Linked DNA regions of Homo sapiens. The protein of the gene in region 2 interacts with the protein of the main gene of each other region in a biochemical or structural test. Each region holds a gene or a part of one and is shown on either strand. Other genes may lie near its edges.

Region 1 (8,666 bases), on a different chromosome or scaffold from region 2:
GTCTATGCCAGTGCTTCCTGCAGCCTGGTCTCAGCATGAGCAGAGATAGTTTCATCATTTACTGCATTTTATTTTGGCCATCTGGTGTTCACCCAGTTTTTAGAAGGTTCAAGTATTTTTGTCATGAGAAATAATTAAATCCTATAGAAATATGAATCCTACAATAACTGCTAGACATTTTGTATGTTTTTGTTTTTAAGAGGAACTAGAAGAAAGTGAAGGAAGAGTTAAGTTGAAGGGGTTTTCCTTTATCTCTGAGGACGTTTCCCTGAATTTATATACCCTTTTATGTGTCATTGTAACTCCTTTGTGATTTAAAGCACTGCCACAATGCAACTTTATATTCTAGTTAAATGAGCAAATTAATAGAATTCATTACCTGCTGAAGACTGTAAACCTGTCTATGAATAGGTCAGACATAAGCAGATGCTCCCAGAGGACTTTAGAAAACAAATGCAAAGGTTATCACAAATAAGAAAACTTCTGATCCACAATAGTTGAATTCTATTTCAGATTCAGTTTTTCTCTATTTTTAAGCAGCATATACTGTGTCTCAGCAGGTTGAATTCGAAGTGGGCTTTTACAGTCATTGACCCATTGATCTGACTTAAATCAGAATTCTATTAAAGCTAGAATCAACCTTTTCTTTTTAGGCAATTGCTTCTCCTTAGCCTGTTGCTATTGAAACTTCCTTTCTAAACCCTCAAATCTAGGGATTAGTATTAAAGCACACCTTCTAGAGACACAATTTTATCTCTGCTTTTATCTTATTTTCAGTCAAAATTGCAGATCATGTAAGGATTGTTCCAAATGTCAGAAATGAAGCCCTTTTAAAGGAGATTAAAAAAATCATTTTTAAAGGCAACAGGGTTAGTTCCAAGACTGTGTGTTATGATATGCCAAGTTTCTGTTTTCTTTAAACCTCCTAGTTTTTAAGGCCAGCTCACTGATTAATTGAGCATCTATTGAACATCAACTTTGCCCAGCTGATGCCCATTGCATTCTGCCCTGATTAGTAGTCAGAAAATTTGATTAATTGCCCTGAGATTCTCAGGGTTAGCACTCCTCAACTCAGTGCATTTATGATTGGAAGGGTTCAGACTGGACCACGGATTGCTGTGGCCCAAGGATACAAACATACGGAGACTGGGGAGTAAGAAGATCAAAAGACACAGCAGGGTAAACTAACCACCCAGCTGCGTGCACTCCGCGACCTTGAGCTTCAGCCTTTCTGAGTGAATAGGTTCATATCTGTTACTTAAAAGTGTAACTTACTCTTTTTCATGGAATAATTTCAAATTAGCCTAGTATACCTTATTCCATGGTAAACCCAGAATAAATATTTATTGAAAGACTGAATGAAGGTTTTTAAGCATTTTAAAAGCACTCTCTAGTCTAATCCACAAAATGTGTTCTTCATTCAGAGGCTCAAGATGTGTTGCTCGGTTTGAATATATTGGAGAGCAGAAGGATGAGTTGAGTTTCTCAGAGGGAGAAATTATTATTCTTAAAGAGTATGTGAATGAGGAATGGGCCAGAGGAGAAGTTCGAGGCAGAACTGGGATTTTCCCCCTGAACTTTGTGGAGCCTGTTGAGGATTATCCCACCTCTGGTGCAAATGTTTTAAGTGAGTATAGAGAATTTTTTTTATTATGTTATGTCCTAATTCAAATAAACCAAATAATATCATTATACTTAAGCTGTATAATAATCCATATTGCCATATTTTTACGGTAGAAGGAAAACTGATTTTAAAATGGGAATTTGTGTGGGATAGACATTATTTGTGGGCATCTCTCAAAGAGCTGGTTTTGGTATTTTAGGTAATTAGCAATAGCTTCATATAAGAAATGGCAAAGAGGCTGGGTATGATGGCTCAGACCTGTAATTCCAACACTTTGAGAGGCCACGGTGGGCGGATTGCCTGAGACCAGGAGTTCAAGGCTGCAGTGAGCTATGATTGTACCACTGCACTCCAGCCTGGGCAACAGAGCCAGACTCTGTATCTAATAAATAAATAGCAAAGACTTTTAAACAGAAATGAACTATAGACTGTTACTAATGTATATAGACTATAAATAGTTGTGTTTACAATTAACTAAACAAGCTCAGTGAAGTTAGTACAGGTTAACGCAACATAGACAATACATGAAGAGACCGGAGTGGAATCCCAGAGTCTTCACTCCCACCTCCCACCTCAACCATTTGTTTTTAATACTATGTGGCCTTCACATCTAATGTTCTGACTTCTTGTGTTTGTTTGTTTTTTTAATGTAGGCACAAAGGTACCACTGAAAACCAAAAAAGAAGATTCTGGCTCAAACTCTCAGGTAGGCTGCTTGAACAGATGACTATAGTGACAGCCAGGTTCAGACTCTGGGAGGAATATTAAAATCATAATTTTCAAGAGAATATAGTATGAATTAATTTTTCAATTCATACAACAAATGTTTGTAATAAATTCTTAGATGGTTAATATATTTTATATAGAGAGCTCATACAAAAACATGTAAACCCTGATAGAAAATGAAAACAGAGACTGGGCAGAGTGGCTCATGCCTGTAATCCCAACACTTTGGGAAGCCAAGGCAGGTGGATTACCTGAGGTTAGGAGTTCGAGACCAGCCTGGCCAACATGGTGAAACCCTGTCTCTACTAAAAATACAAAAATTAACCAGGCATGGTGGCGTGCACCTGTAGTCCCAGCTACTTGGAAGGCTGAAGCAGGAAAATAGCTTGAACCTGGCGGTGGAGGTTGCAGTGAGCCAAGATAGCACCACTGCATTCCAGCCTGGGTGGCAGTGCGAGACTCTATCTCAAAAAAGAAAGAAAGAAAATGATAAAAGAGACATGATTAGAGAATTCATAAAAGAGGCTGTGCGCGGTGGCTCATGCCTGTAATCCCAGCACTTTGGGAAGCCGAGGCGGGCGGATCATGAGGTCAGGGGATCGAGACCACCCTGGCTAACACGGTGAAACCCCGTCTCTACTAAAAATACAAAAAAAATCAGCCGGGTGTGGTGACCAGCGCGCGTATTCCCAGCTACTCAGGAGGCTGAGGCAGGGGAATGGCGTGAACCCGGGGGGCAGAGTTTGCAGTGAGCCAAGATTGCGCCACTGCACTCCCGCCTGGGAGACAGAGCAAGACTCTGCCTCAAAAAAAAAGAAAAAAAGAAAAAAAGAATTCATAAAAGAGATACCATAAGTGGCTAATATTGAAAAAATATTTAACCTTTCTAATAATCAAGAAAATATATAATAAAGCAGCAATAAAATACCATTTAACCTATTCAGTTAACAAAGATTCAGTGCAGCTCAGCACTAAACAAGCAATTATAAGCATGTGAGTGTTAAAAAAAAAAGAGAGAAAGTACACATTCTTATTTGTCACCCTAAGAAAAGGATAAAAAATGAGATAGGGTTTTAGTCACAAAGATGAGCATAGTGCTAATATAATAAGAAAAAATTGGAAACAACCTAAATATGACCATTATTGGGAGAATATTCTAAAGCTATGAAAAACTAGATTTATCAAATAAAATAATGTTTTTAAATGTCATGAGAGGAAACATAGGGAAAGGGGATATAAAATTGAATATATAGCATAAAAAGACTGGAAGGAAATTATTCAAGTTACTAGTATTAAATTGCATCTAGGTAGTGAGATTATATATACGGGTAGGTTTTTTTCCCCCACTTCTTTTTTTTTTTTCTTTTTTTTGAGACGGAGTCTTACTCCGTCGCCCAGGCTGGAGTGCAGTGGCGCAGTCTTGGCTCACTGCAACCTCTGCTGCCGGCTTCAAGTGATTCTCCTGACTCAACCTCCTGAGTAAGCTGGGTTTACAGGTGCCTGCCACTGTGCTTCGCTAATTTTTGTAGTTTTAGCAGAAACGGGGTTTTACCGTCTTGGCCAGGCTGGTCTTGAACTCCTGACCTCGTGATCCACCCACCTCGGCCTCCCTAAGTGCTGGGATTACTGGCATGAGCCACTGCGCCTGGCCTTCTCCATTTCTTTATACGTTTCTCAACTTTCCAAATATTTAGGAACATTTGTTTCATTTGTATAATGAGAAAGAGAAAAATAGTGGGTTAAAATTTTTACACTGTTCAGCATGACCCCAGAAATGCTTAAAGGTACTAGGAATGTGGTGCCTTCTGTTGTTTTTAGTTTTTTGTTGTTTTTGGTTTTATTTTGGTTTTTTTGTTTTGTTTTGTTTTGTTTTTTTGAGACAGGATCTCACTCTGATGCCCAGGCTAAGTGCAGTGTCGAGGTCTCAGCTCACTGCAACCTCTGCTTCCCAGGCTCAAGCAATCCACCTCAGCCTCCTAAGTAGCTGGGATGACAGGCACACACCACCACTCCCAGCTAATTTTTGTATTTTTTGTAGACAGGGTCTCATTTTGTTGCCCAGGCTGGTCTCAAAATCCTGGGCTCAAGCGCTCCACCTGCCTCAGCCTCCCAAGGTACTAGGATTACAGGGGTGATCCACCACATCCGGCCTTCCATTGTTTTTTGTGACAAATTTAGAAGAGTTAAGCCTGATGGGATCATTGTGTTTGTGAAAATGTCACTTGTAATTGGCCTGTGTGTCCCTTAATTCTTTATCCCTACCCACTGATAAAGTGAAACAGGAAGGAAACTGACTACAGTTCTCCAAAAGGAAATGTTCACATGGTTGTTGCCTGCATTTTTGGAGAATGATAAGTTCCATCCTTTAGGGTTGGTTACTCAAGTGCAGGAGCAAGAGGGGGTTAGTGTTGTTTGCTTGCTTTTTGTTTTTGTTTTATAAGCCATCAGTTATTGAGCACTTAAGATGTGCCAGGCACTGGGCTAAATGTTAGACATGCATTGTCTCATTTAATCCTCTTAGTAACCCCAAGATGAAGCTGAGCCTCAGAGAAGAGAAGCGTCTTGCCCAGTGTCACGAAGTTAAGAAGTGGCAGAACTGGGTCTGGAAACCTTGCCTGTGTAGCTCCAAAGCCTTTGTCCCGGCCAGGCGCTGAGGCTCACTCCTGTAATCCCAGCACCTTGGGAGGCCAAGGCAGGTGGATCGCTTCAGGCCAGGAGTTCGAGACCAGCCTGGCCAACATGGTGAAACCCCGTCTCTACTAAAAATACAAAAATTAGCTGGGTGTGGTGGTGTGCACCTGTAGTCCTAGCTAATCGGGAGGCTGAGGCAGGAGAATTGCTTGAACCCGGGAGGCAGAGGTTGCATTGAGCCAAGATTGCATCATTGCCCTTCAGCCTGGGCAACAGAGCGAGACTCCATCTCGAAAGAAAAAAGCCTTTTCATTATCCTCTACTGCCTTCTTGAGCCTCTTGAACATAGGGTTCCCATCCCAAATTGGCAGAGCTGCCTCTTCACAGAGCAAAACCTTTCTCTAATGTGCCTGGGATAAAAGTGTTCTTACACTAGCCCACCACATCTGGGTGTTATCCTGCCAATCTTAGAGTTAACTACAGCTCATAAAATTAAAAGTGTGAATTGATGAAGTTCTGTGCTATGGACTCTAATTGTCTCTGAATCAAGTAAAGACCTGGGAATTCATAGACCAACCCATTCTGATCCTTCCTAATTTAAATAAAGAAGAGCTTCACTGATAATTACATACTTTATCAGAATTTTTTCATAGTGTCAAATACTATGCATAAATATTTTATGCTTTTACCTAATTCTTTAATATAACAATATAATAGGTCATATTAAGAAAAAAGTTTTTTGGCTGAGTGAGGTGGATCATGCCTGTAATCCCAGAAGTTTGGGAGGGTGGGAGGATCACTTGAGCCAAGAGTTCAAGACCAGCCTGGGCAACATAGTGAGACTTCATTTCTGCAAAAATAAAATAAAATTAAATAGCCGAGTGTGGTGGCTGCACCTGTAGTCCCAGCTACTCGGGAGGCTGAGGAGGGAGGATTGCCTGAGCCCAGGAAGTCAAGGCTGCAGTGAGCTATGATTCTGCCACTGTACTCCATCCTGGGTTACTAAGTAAGAACTTGGCTCAGAAAAGAAAATAAAGAAAGTAAAAAAGTGTTTGCTTAAGCTTTGTATATCCCTTAAAAGCAGAAAAGCCACAAATTCTATCACACTTGTCATTTAGAGTTATAATTTAAGAAAAAATTATTGGAAACTTTTACTTCTGAAACTTGATAGCAACATAAAGTATTAGATAATTTAAAGAAGCCTTCAGGCTTTGAAATCTTAAGACCCCTTAGTTTTTTTTTCCCCACTACTTTTTAAGCTTTGTAGAACTCAATTTCAAATAAAATCTTACACTTCTGACCACACCTCTAATTTGATAACAGGTTAACAGTCTTCCGGCAGAATGGTGTGAAGCTCTTCACAGTTTTACAGCAGAGACCAGTGATGACTTATCATTCAAGAGGGGAGACCGGATCCAGATTCTGGAACGTCTGGATTCTGACTGGTGCAGGGGCAGACTGCAGGACAGGGAGGGGATCTTCCCAGCAGTGTTTGTGAGGCCCTGCCCAGGTATGACAACCGCAAGACATGAATGCGACTCCTCACGGGGAGCCTGAAACCTTCAAAACTATATACATTCCTTTCCCCTCTGGCCATGCTCAGTTTGTCTGTCTATATTTGAAAGAGCTGATACATGAAGTTATGCAAACTTCATTCATATGCTTTGTTAGAGTTATAGAAAAAAAAGATAATGTCTTCACTAAATAATGGCTAATTCCATCTAATAAATATAGTTTACGTAATTTTTCCCTGCTAAAAGAACATTGTTCATCTTTTTGAAAGTTAAATAAGTTCAAAATTAATTGAACATGTTTTTAAAAATGTTTTTCTTTGCCTAATATCACTACCTCTGAAGAGAAGATACTGTGTTTTTAGAGCGATAAGCGTTTTTTTTTAAAAAATGTTAGATTTGTGTTTTAGTCCACTGTGTTTCTATATATTTAAATTTTTTATGTCTTCACAGCTGAGGCAAAAAGTATGTTGGCCATAGTACCGAAGGGGAGGAAGGCCAAAGCCTTATATGATTTCCGAGGGGAGAATGAAGATGAACTTTCCTTCAAGGTCAGAATGTGTATCTCTTCATAACTGCATTAAGCACTATAATTTTTTAAATGTTTTCCATTGAAGGATGGAACATTTGGGTGGAATATTAATCATTACTCAAGAATGAAGAGATCTCAGGCCCTGATTCTAGGGGAAGACATTAGAGAAAGTGAACAGTGCAAATAGGCCTGTTAATTTACAGTATCAACCAGGCATTAATGTACTTAGAGAAAACCTTGGCTTTACACCCCCATACATCCCCAAAGTAATCCCTGTTCCTTGGTCTTAGGTCATCAGATCTCAGTAATATTAGGGTTTTTATTAGTAGCCCTGGTAACAGATGACTGTCTACATGGCCCTGCAAGCCTGCCATTGATGTGTCTTTGAAATTGATGGAGAATCAGATAGCACCTGCTACAATTTGCACTAGTAGCATAGTAGCCTCATAAGACACTAAATTCCTTTGGGAGGCCGAGGTGGGGGGATCACGAGGTCAGGAGATCGAGACCATCCTGGCTAACACGGTGAAACCCCGTCTCTACTAAAAAATACAAAAAAATTAGCTGGGCATGGTGGCAGGCGCCTGTAATCCCAGCTACTGAGGAGGCTGAGGCAGGAGAATGGCATGAACCCGGGAGGTGGAGCTTGCAGTGAGCCGAGATTGCACCACTGCACTCTTGTCCACAAAGGCAATGACCAGAGGTTTGGGGAAATAGTCCCAAAAGGTTGAGCTAGTTTGCAAAGGTTTTTTTTTTTTTTTTTTTCACCGAAGAAATGCCTAATTTCTTCTTAAAGTAAAAGTAGATATTTTCTTTTCTTTTTTTTTTTTTTCTTTTTTGAGACAGAGTCTCGCTCTGTCACCCAGGCTGGAGTGCAGTGGGGCGATCTCGGCTCACTGCAAGCTCCACCTCCCGGTTCACGCCATTCTCCTGCCTCAGCCTCCCGAGTAGCTGGGACTACAGGTGCCCGCCACCATGCCCAGCTAATTTTTTTGTATTTTTTTTAGTAGAGACGAGGTTTCACCATGTTAGTGAAGATGGTCTTGATCTCCTGACCTGGTGATCCGCCCACCTCAGCCTCCAAAAGTGCTGGGATTACAGGCGTGAGCCACCGCGCCCGGCCAAAAGTAGATATTTTCATGATTCTATTTCCCTAATCCACAACTGGACCATAGTCAGAGGAAAGCACTTTGGGAACAGTGCTAGAAGAAGGAGGGTGGTTTTAGTAGTCACTGCTGTCAAAATAGCCTGTGTCAGGCAGTGGTAAATTCTCTGTCATTGAAGATATTCAGTCAGAGGAAAGGATGCCATAGAAAGAATTAACATATCAAGGAATGATTGGACAAGGTGTGGTTTAAAACAGTGGACAACCAAACAGGGTTTTCACTTGTCTGCAACAAGATGAGAAAAAGGCCGAGCAACAGTGGCTCACACCTCTAATCCCAACACTTTTGGGAAGTCAAGGCAGGAGGATCGCTTGAGGCCAGGAGTTTAAAACCAGCCTGGTCAACATGGCAAGACCCCATCTCAACAAAGAAAAAGAGGAAAACAAGGCAATACCTGAATCAGGTATGTGCAGCCTTTGTCGGGGTAAGGGGGGATGCCTTGACTGAAATATGTCACCATAAAGTTGCTAACTTCC
Region 2 (8,666 bases):
GGAAGTTATTTCTGTGAATTCTCTTAATATTTTGGCAGCCTTTTTTGCTTCTGATTTCAAATTGGAAGGTATAGGGTTATTCACTGAAACATAACAAAAGATATTTTAATGAAAAATTCTGCTAAATAGAAGTGAGAAATTTATTATTATTTCATTCTTCTCATATACAATTGTCAGAGGTGTTCAAACCAGAGGGACTCCATTTTGAATAGGAGCTGGGTGAAATAAGGCTGAGACCTACTGGGCTGCATTCCCAGAAGGTTAGGCATTCCAAGTCACAGGATGAGACAGGAGGTCCGCACAAGATACAGGTAACGAAGACCTTGCTGATAAAACAGCATGCAGTAAAGGAGCTGGCCAAATCCACCAAAACCAAGAAGGCAATGAACGTGACCTCTGGTCATCTTCACTGCTCATTATACACTAATTCTAATGCGTTAGCTGCCAAAAGACACTCCCACCAGCGCCATGACAGTTTACAAATGCCATGGCAACATCAGGAAGTTACCCTATATGGTCTAAAAAGGAGAGGACCTCTCAGTTCCGGGAATTGCCCACCCCTTTTCCAGAAAACTCACGAATAATCCACTCCGTGTTTAGCATATAATTGAAAAACAATTGTAAGTATCCTTAGTTGAGCAGCCCATGCCACTACTCCACCTATTGAGTAGCCCTTCTTTATTCCTTTACTTTCTTAATAAACTTGCTTTTACTTTATGGACTTGCCCTGAGTTCTTTCTAGCACCAGGTCCAAGAACCCTTTCTTGGGGTCTGGATCGGGACCCCTTTTTGGTAACACAATGAAGCATTACCACAGCATAGCCTATCAAAGGAAATGACTGGAAATCCTCATTGACAGTATCATCTCTATTTCTCCTAATAAATCAAATCTATGCTGAGAGTCAGAAACTCTAAACTCTCATCTCAGAAATTATAAAATCCTTGGGCCCCAAAGGATGTTAAACAAAACCTGGCCAAACCTCCCTGTTATGTATCTTCTTCCTGCAATTAACAGACTTCAATACTAATTTAAAATAAGAATTTAAAATTTAAAAATATATTTTGTAACTATCTATAATATATAGTATAAATTTAATATATTTTGTTGTTCTTGCCAAAAATGTTGGAACTGGCTGCCTGTAGACTTTCTGATGAGTAAAACTCTAGGAAGACTTGGGAATTGAGCCTACAAGTAACGCCGGCCTGCATTTCTATGGCACTTTACGTTTACAGTGTTGCCTGGACATTCATACACTCATCAGAGGGCTTGTCATAACAAAGCTCACATAATTCTTCCAGCTCTGAAGTATATCGAGAAGATAGACTATTCTCTTGTTACTGGACGAGGGATCAGCAGAGCGAAGAAGCTGAATAGCTTCAGTGTAGGACCACAAGTGCCCTGAGGCTGAGAAGTTCTTGTCTCACTGTCTACAATTAGGAGGCACATGCGTGACTGACTGCAGGATGCCAGGATCTGGAAGGTTGAAGGCATTCATTTCCACTGTTTCGCCTCAGTAATTTACAGAACAGAGATGAAGTACGCTAATGGAAGCTTGCTTTTGTAAAAGGAAAATAAATCTCAGGACCCCAGAATCACTGAGCCAAGGGAAAAGTCAAGCTGGGAACTCTGTGAGGCAAACCTGCCTCCCATTTTATTCCTAAAAAGATAGCTACAAAGGTAAGAAGCTACACACCTCCCTCACAATTTGATCACAAGGAAATTCCCTGTGGACAACAGATGGAACTCAGACTCATCCCTCTGCTCACGTGAGACAAATGCATATCTGATTGTTTCCTTTGCCCTGTTGTTTCACTAAGCCAGACTACAGCCTAAGTGACTATTCCTGTAAATCACAAAGGCTAATCAGACACTCAAAAGAATGCAACTGTTTGTCTTCTATCTATTTATGATCAGGAAGCCCCCTACCCACTTCAAGTTGTCCCGCCTTTCTGGATCTAATCAATCTTACATATATTGATTGATGTCTCATGTCTCCCTAAAATTTATAAAACCAAACTATACTCAAATCGCCTTGAGCACGTCATCAGGACCTCCTGAGGCTGTGTCATGGGCTGTCCTTAACCTTGACAAAATAAACTTTTAAAATTGATTAAAACCTGTGTCAGAGCTCATGTATAAACTCATGGTTTATTCTTTCGACAGATCAAATGCTGAAACAGCAGAGAAAAAAATCCCTTTCTTTTATTCAGCAAAATATAAATATCTCCAATAAAATGTGATATATTTTGGTGCCTGGAATGTTTGAAACATGTAATTTATCTTAAAAGTGAAAACTGGCTGGGTACTCCCAGCACTTTGGGAGGCCAAGGGAGGAGGATCACTTGAGGCCAGGAGTTCGAGACCAGCCTGGGCAACATAGTGAGACCCCCATCTCTACCAATAAAATGATTTAAAAAATTAGCCAGTCATGGTCCTTGCTGAAGTCCTTGCTACCCAGGAGGCGGAGGCAGGAAGATCACTTGAACTCAGGAGATCAAGGCTGCAGTGAGCTATGACTGGGCTACTGCACTCCAGCCTGGGCAACAGGGCAAAGCCCTGCCTCAAAATAAAATAAAATTTTAAAAAGTGAAAACTGACTTAGGGTCATTTTGGAGTTCTATTTAAATTTCTTTAAAAGATGTCAGTATCAGTTCTTTGTGGCTCAACACAGGAGTATTAACAAGATCCAGACCAGGAAAAAAATCCATCCCAAGATTCATCAATGGTATTAAGTCAGATAGAGGAAGGTATTTCCACAGATACTTTATGCAAAATTAAGTGTGCATGATGCATGTGTGTAGCTCTTTACTCCTTTTAAAAACAAGTGGCATCACAGCATTAGTGTATTTTGGCATGTTGCATTTTTTAATCAATGTTATCTCAGAATAGTTAAAATACTGCCTCTCAGTGTAGGCTTTTCAAATCAACTTCATGAGATACAATTTACAAAATGAAATCTACCTGTTACAGGTATAGCTCAGTGTGCATGGACAGAGGTAGAGACCACTCCTGATCACAGCATCCGTGCCCTCTGTAGTGGTCACTCCTATACCCAGCCCCTGCCTCAGGTTAGTGCCAATCTGATTTCTGTCATTAAGTATGAATTTTGTCTGTGCCAGAACTTCATATAGTCATCAGTGTGTGTTCTTTTCTGTCTAGCTTATTTTACTCACCATGAAATTACTGAGACTCAAATTGCTGCACAGATCAGCTCTTCCTTTTTGACTGCCAACTGGTATTCTAATGTGTGGACATAGCACAATTTGTCCTTCCAGTCACTGTTGATAGACAATTGGGTTGTTTCCAGCTTTTGGCTATTACAAATAAAACTGCTATAAATATTCCTTTGTAAGCCTTTTGTAAAAAAATGTTTTATGGCCGGACACGGTGGCTCACACCTGTAATCCCAGCAATTTGGGAGGCCGAGGTGGGGGGATCACCTGAGGTCAGGAGTTCAAGACCAGCCTGGCTAACATGGTGAAACCCCATTTCTACTAAAAATACAAAAAATTAGCCAGATGTGGTGACGTGCGCCTGTAATCCCAGCTACTCAGGAGCCTGAGGCAGGAGAATCACTTGAACCTGGAAGGTGGAGGTTGCAGTGAGCCGAGATGGCGCCATTGCACTCCAGCTTGGGCAGCAAGAACGAAACTCCATCTCAAAAAAAAGAAAAAGAAAAAATGTTTTATTTCTCTTGGGTAATTACCTAGGATAGGAATTGCCAGTTCATGTGGTAAATGTGTATTTAACAATGTAAGGAGCCACCTAAGAGTTCTCTAAAGTGATTACACATTTCAGGCTTCCACCAGAAACTTTTATAAGAGTTCTGGTTATTCCATATCCTCACCAACACTTGCAATGTCCAGTTTTTAAAATTTTAGTTATTTTAGTGGTACACAGTGGCCTTTCACTGTGGATTTAATTTTCGTTTCTCAGATGACTAATGATGTTGAACACTTTTTCCTATTTCTATATCTTGTAAAGTGTCTGCTTAAATCTTTTGTCCACGTCCTTTAACCACTTATTATTATTATTATACTTTAACGGAGTTGTTTTTTTGCTTGTTAATTTGTTTAAATTTCTTATAGATTCTGAATATTAGGCCTTTGTTGGATGTAGAGCTTACAAATATTTTCTTCTATTCTGTAGGTTGTTTTCTCTGTTGATAGTTTCTTTTGCTGTTCAGAAGCTCTTTAGTTTAAGTAGGTCCCATTTGTCAATTTTTGTTTTTGTTGTAATTGCTTTTGGCATCTTTATCATAAAATCTTTGCCAGCGATTATGTCCACAATGGAATTTCCTAGCTTATCTTCCAGAGTTTTTACAGCTTTAGGTTTTACATTGTTAAAACAGGCTAAATGTGACCTGAGAAGAACTCCATACTTCAATATTTGAGTCCTTGTAGATGAACTGCCACCTAACTTAATATGTAGACAAGATTGAGAACTTAACTTAGGAGTATGCATCTGTAACAATAGCTCAGTCTTGGCCAATCCCAGCAGCCATACTTCAACCACTCATACACTGCTAAGTGTTCACATAAGGAAAATGATGAGCTGTAACCAATCCAGTTGTTTCTGTACTTCATTTCTGATTTCTGTACGTCACTTCCCCTTTTTTGGTCTATAAATTTGTTCTGACCACGAGGCATCCCTGGAGTCTCTCTGAATCTGCTGTGATTCTGGGGGCTGCCCGACTTGCATATCATTCATTGCTCAATTAAACTCCTTAAAATTTAATTTGGCTTAAGTTTTTAACAACATTCAAGTCTTTAATCCATCTTGAATTGTTTTTTTGCATATGGTATAAGGAAGGGGTCCTGTTTCAGTCTTCTGTGTATGGCTGGCCAGGTATTCCAGCACCATTTATTGAATATGGAGTCCTTTCCCCATTGCTTATTTTTGTTGACTTTGTCAAATATCAGATGATTGTAGCTGTGTAGCATGAATTCTGGGCTCTCGATTCTGTTCATTGTTCTATGAGTCTGTTTTTGTACCATTACCATGCTGTTTTCATTACTGTAGCTTTGTAGTATAGTTTGAAGTCGGGTAGCATGATTCCTCCAGCTGTTCTTTTTGCTTAGGATTGCCTTGGCTATTTGGGCTCTTTCTTGGTTCCATATGAATTTTAAAATAGTTTTGTTTTCTAATTCTGTGAAGAATGATATTGGTAGTATAATAGGAATAGTATTGAATCTATAAATTGCTCTAGGCAGTATGGCAATTTTAATAATGTTGATTCTTCCTATCCTTGAACAAGGAATGTTTTTCCATGTTTGTGCCATCTCTGATTTCTTTCAGCAGTGCTTTGTAATTCTTGTTGTAGAGATCTTTCACCTCCTTGGTTAGCTGTATTCTTAGGTATTTTATTCTTTTTGTGTAAAATAGGTGTTTTAAATTGTATAATCTGCCATTTCTCGATCTGTTTTTGACTGATTCTTCTTCCAGCTATGGGTTATGTTTTCCTGTTTTTACTCCTTTCTAGTAAAACAGGATTGTAGATATTACCATGTTGAGTGCCTAGATTTCATTGCTTCCCTTAAAAGTGTTAACACTTGTGTTAGCAGGCAGTGAGTTACTTGTAGATCAGCTTGATCACTTGTTGGCTTGTTGTTGTGTTCTGTTTGTGTGTCTAGAGTAGCCTTTAGAACTATTTTATCCATCAAGGTGTGTCCCTTCTGGGCTCTCTCCTGGGTGCCCTGGTTGTTTAATAAGCTGTCTCCATTGTGGCTGTTTCGAATGGCTGTCCCCAGCCTGATGCAAGCACTGTGAATAGTTCACCTCAAAGCTTCATGGCAGTTGTTCTTGCCTGCTTTGCAAATTTCACCCTACACAGCTAGCACTTAATATTCAGCAGAAGGCTCAGGGGGATCCCTCTGCAGATTTCTGGAGCTCTTTCTCTCAGCCGTCCCTCATTGCTAGTAACATGCTCTGCAAATTCCAGTTACCTCAGCCTCTTCAGACTCAATTTCTGCCTCTTCTTTTAAGCAGGAGCCTGGGCTCTGGGTGCCCCCTCCTTGTCCTGCAGTTTAGGAAGTGCTCCAGGCAGAAAACGGTCACTAATGGAGTTCACCTCCTGTTCCCCTTATCTTGTGGATCTCAGACATGTCCACCATGTGCAAAAAGTGCTCTACACACAGCTGTCCAGTTTCCTAGCTGTTTACCATGTGTGAGTAGCAGGAGCCATTTCGCTGCCCTGGCCAGTAGCTCTCAGTGCATTTTCCATTTGTTCTTTTATGATGAGCAATGCTGACCACATTTCACTCTCTCTATCAAAGGTTTCTCATGCACCTTGTTATTTACAGGGGGTTTCTCTCTGTTTCTTATTAATTTATACATTAAAAATTAATATTTTTTTGGAATATGAGTTAAAAACATTGACTCTCTGTTACTTGTCTTTTGAATTTGCTTTTTTTTCTGTTTTTTCTTAATGAAATCAAATCTGTCTTCTATCTTACAAGGGTCTTTTAATAAAACACAGTAATTTTGAAGTTCAAATGGGAAAATAAACAAGCAAGAAGAGCTAGGAAAAAATATGTAATAGGAGAACAATGACAGCCCAGCCTTGACAGAACCTGTGACACATTACAAAGCCTCAATAATTAATACATAATAGCAGATGCAAATATAGGAGAAAAATCAATTCACAAAGAAGAAAATTCAGAAATTAACCCAAATATATTTACAAATTTAGTATATAATAAAAATGACACCTCAATTCTATGTTGAAATGATGTATTGCATACTAGATAATGTTCATTTGGGGAGAAAAACAAAAATTCATTCACAGCTTTGTGTTACAGAAAGATAAACTCCAAATTCATTGAAGATTTAGAGTGTCAAATATCAAATTATAAAAGAACCAGGAATTATAGAATTTTTTTTCAATTTCATAGTGGAAAAGACCCAAGTATGGCAACAAAATTTCTATATTTCTATATTTTTACATGATCAGCAATTATTTGTACAACGTACAAATACATTGTAAAATACAGGAAAAAGTACAGATATGAAAATATGAAGGATAAAAAGCATCTATAACATTAATACTCACCAATACTACTGTCTGCATTTTGATGTATGCTTCAATTGATTCCTATTGCGAAACATGTAGACTGATTCCACTTTTAGCTTTTATAGCCATTACTATCAGGTGGTAATTATCTTGGGAGAGATGCTCTAGATGCTCAATATGTTTTAATTACATTTATACATATATCTAGATGCTGGATACATTTGAATTAGTTCACTGGAGTGGAAACTTGTTCTTTCTGCTGCTGAATATTTCATCTACTTTATTTCAGAGGCAGCACAACTTGTCTGCTTACATTGATGCTGCAGCCATAGTATCTGGAGTGGATTGGGTGACCCGAGGCTGCTGTATCAGGACGACATTCCTTTTGGTGCCACAGCAGGGCTTTATAACCAAAGCTGGTCCAATACCAGCATCTGATGGGGGACTTGTATAGGAGCTGCCAGAATAACTTTTTCCAAGGCACTTCTGTTTCCACTTGCTGTGGGATTTTTGTCTCCACAAGGGGAGAGTCTGAGAGCAAAGCCTTCATAGGGGAACCTGGCAGAAGGTGGAGAGAGCACCTGGGCTCTGCAAAGCCAGACTGAAGTCACAAGCCGCTCTGGACTTCTTCGTCAAATGGACCAGCAACATCTTTTTCTGTTAAAGCAATTTAGACTAGATTTTCTGATACATGCAACTGAAGCACTGTAAATAATACATGAATCTTATCCCCTCAGAAGACTTTCTACTTTGAACTCTCTCAACCAAGCAGTATTAGAGCAAATAAGCAAATTCCTCAGTTGAGAGTTAATCTTGCAAACATCCTGCTGTAGGGAAAGGTCATGGCCTGATCTGTAAACACGGGAAGAGAGCCATTGGACTTGGGAATCAGATGCAGCCTCACACGGCTGCAGACCGCAAGACTCATCCTAGACACAGCTTATGTCACTGTGATCCAGCTGTTGACAAGGCTGGTCACAGTGAGGACATCTTCAGTGTGTCAGCTGAACTACAGAAAATGTTACAGATTCTAATCAACTTCTGATAAAATCATGCGTGGTCATAGTTACATGCAGTGAATTTCTCTGTCAGAACAAAAAGAATATGCAAATAAAAATTTAGACATAAGCCTCAAATCCCATCCTCAGCATCAAATGATGGCTCACCCATTTTTCCTCTGCTGTACCATAAGGCATATAGAGCATGACCTGATCAGAGTGCTGATGTCCCATTCTATCATACTGATGAAGACACAGGTCATTACTAATGAAGCCTCTTAAACCTCACATCATGGTTAGCATCTGCACTCTCATAAACGTCTTAAGTCCCTTGAATCAGGCAAAATCTCTATAAATATTTAAGTTTTTTCTAAAAAAAGAGTGGCTGCCAAACCTCAAGCTAAGAAACTTTCAAATAAAGTTTTCTTTAAAACAAAAGTTAAAATGTTTTAAATTTTCATAGTAACACATTTTTTTTTTAAATTAGAAGGTCTTATAAAATACCGGAAAGACAATTTTTACTTTGGAAACCTCAAAAGCATAAATCAGCTTAAGATCTGGAAATAATTTTAGGTATTGATCGCAGTTCTATAAACTCAATGCTAGAGTCACTGGGGACAAACAGGGACATGAGAATCCTACTCGGAGTAAATTG

Evidence for each region.
Region 1: the proteins of SH3YL1 (region 2) and SH3D19 form a complex in vitro, tested with the Homo sapiens proteins (one study listed by BioGRID).

Annotation. Positions count from the first base shown.
Region 1 is NC_000004.12:151,125,995-151,134,660, reverse strand, and holds part of SH3D19 (SH3 domain-containing protein 19), read left to right. Parts: intron 1-1,424; coding exon 1,425-1,627; intron 1,628-2,277; coding exon 2,278-2,330; intron 2,331-6,304; coding exon 6,305-6,491; intron 6,492-6,945; coding exon 6,946-7,043; intron 7,044-8,666. UniProt on the Homo sapiens protein: May play a role in regulating A disintegrin and metalloproteases (ADAMs) in the signaling of EGFR-ligand shedding. May be involved in suppression of Ras-induced cellular transformation and Ras-mediated activation of ELK1.
Region 2 is NC_000002.12:253,033-261,698, forward strand, and holds part of SH3YL1 (SH3 domain-containing YSC84-like protein 1), read right to left. Parts: intron 8,099-8,666; exon of another isoform or gene 7,053-8,098; intron 3,309-7,052; exon of another isoform or gene 3,175-3,308; intron 84-3,174; coding exon 1-83.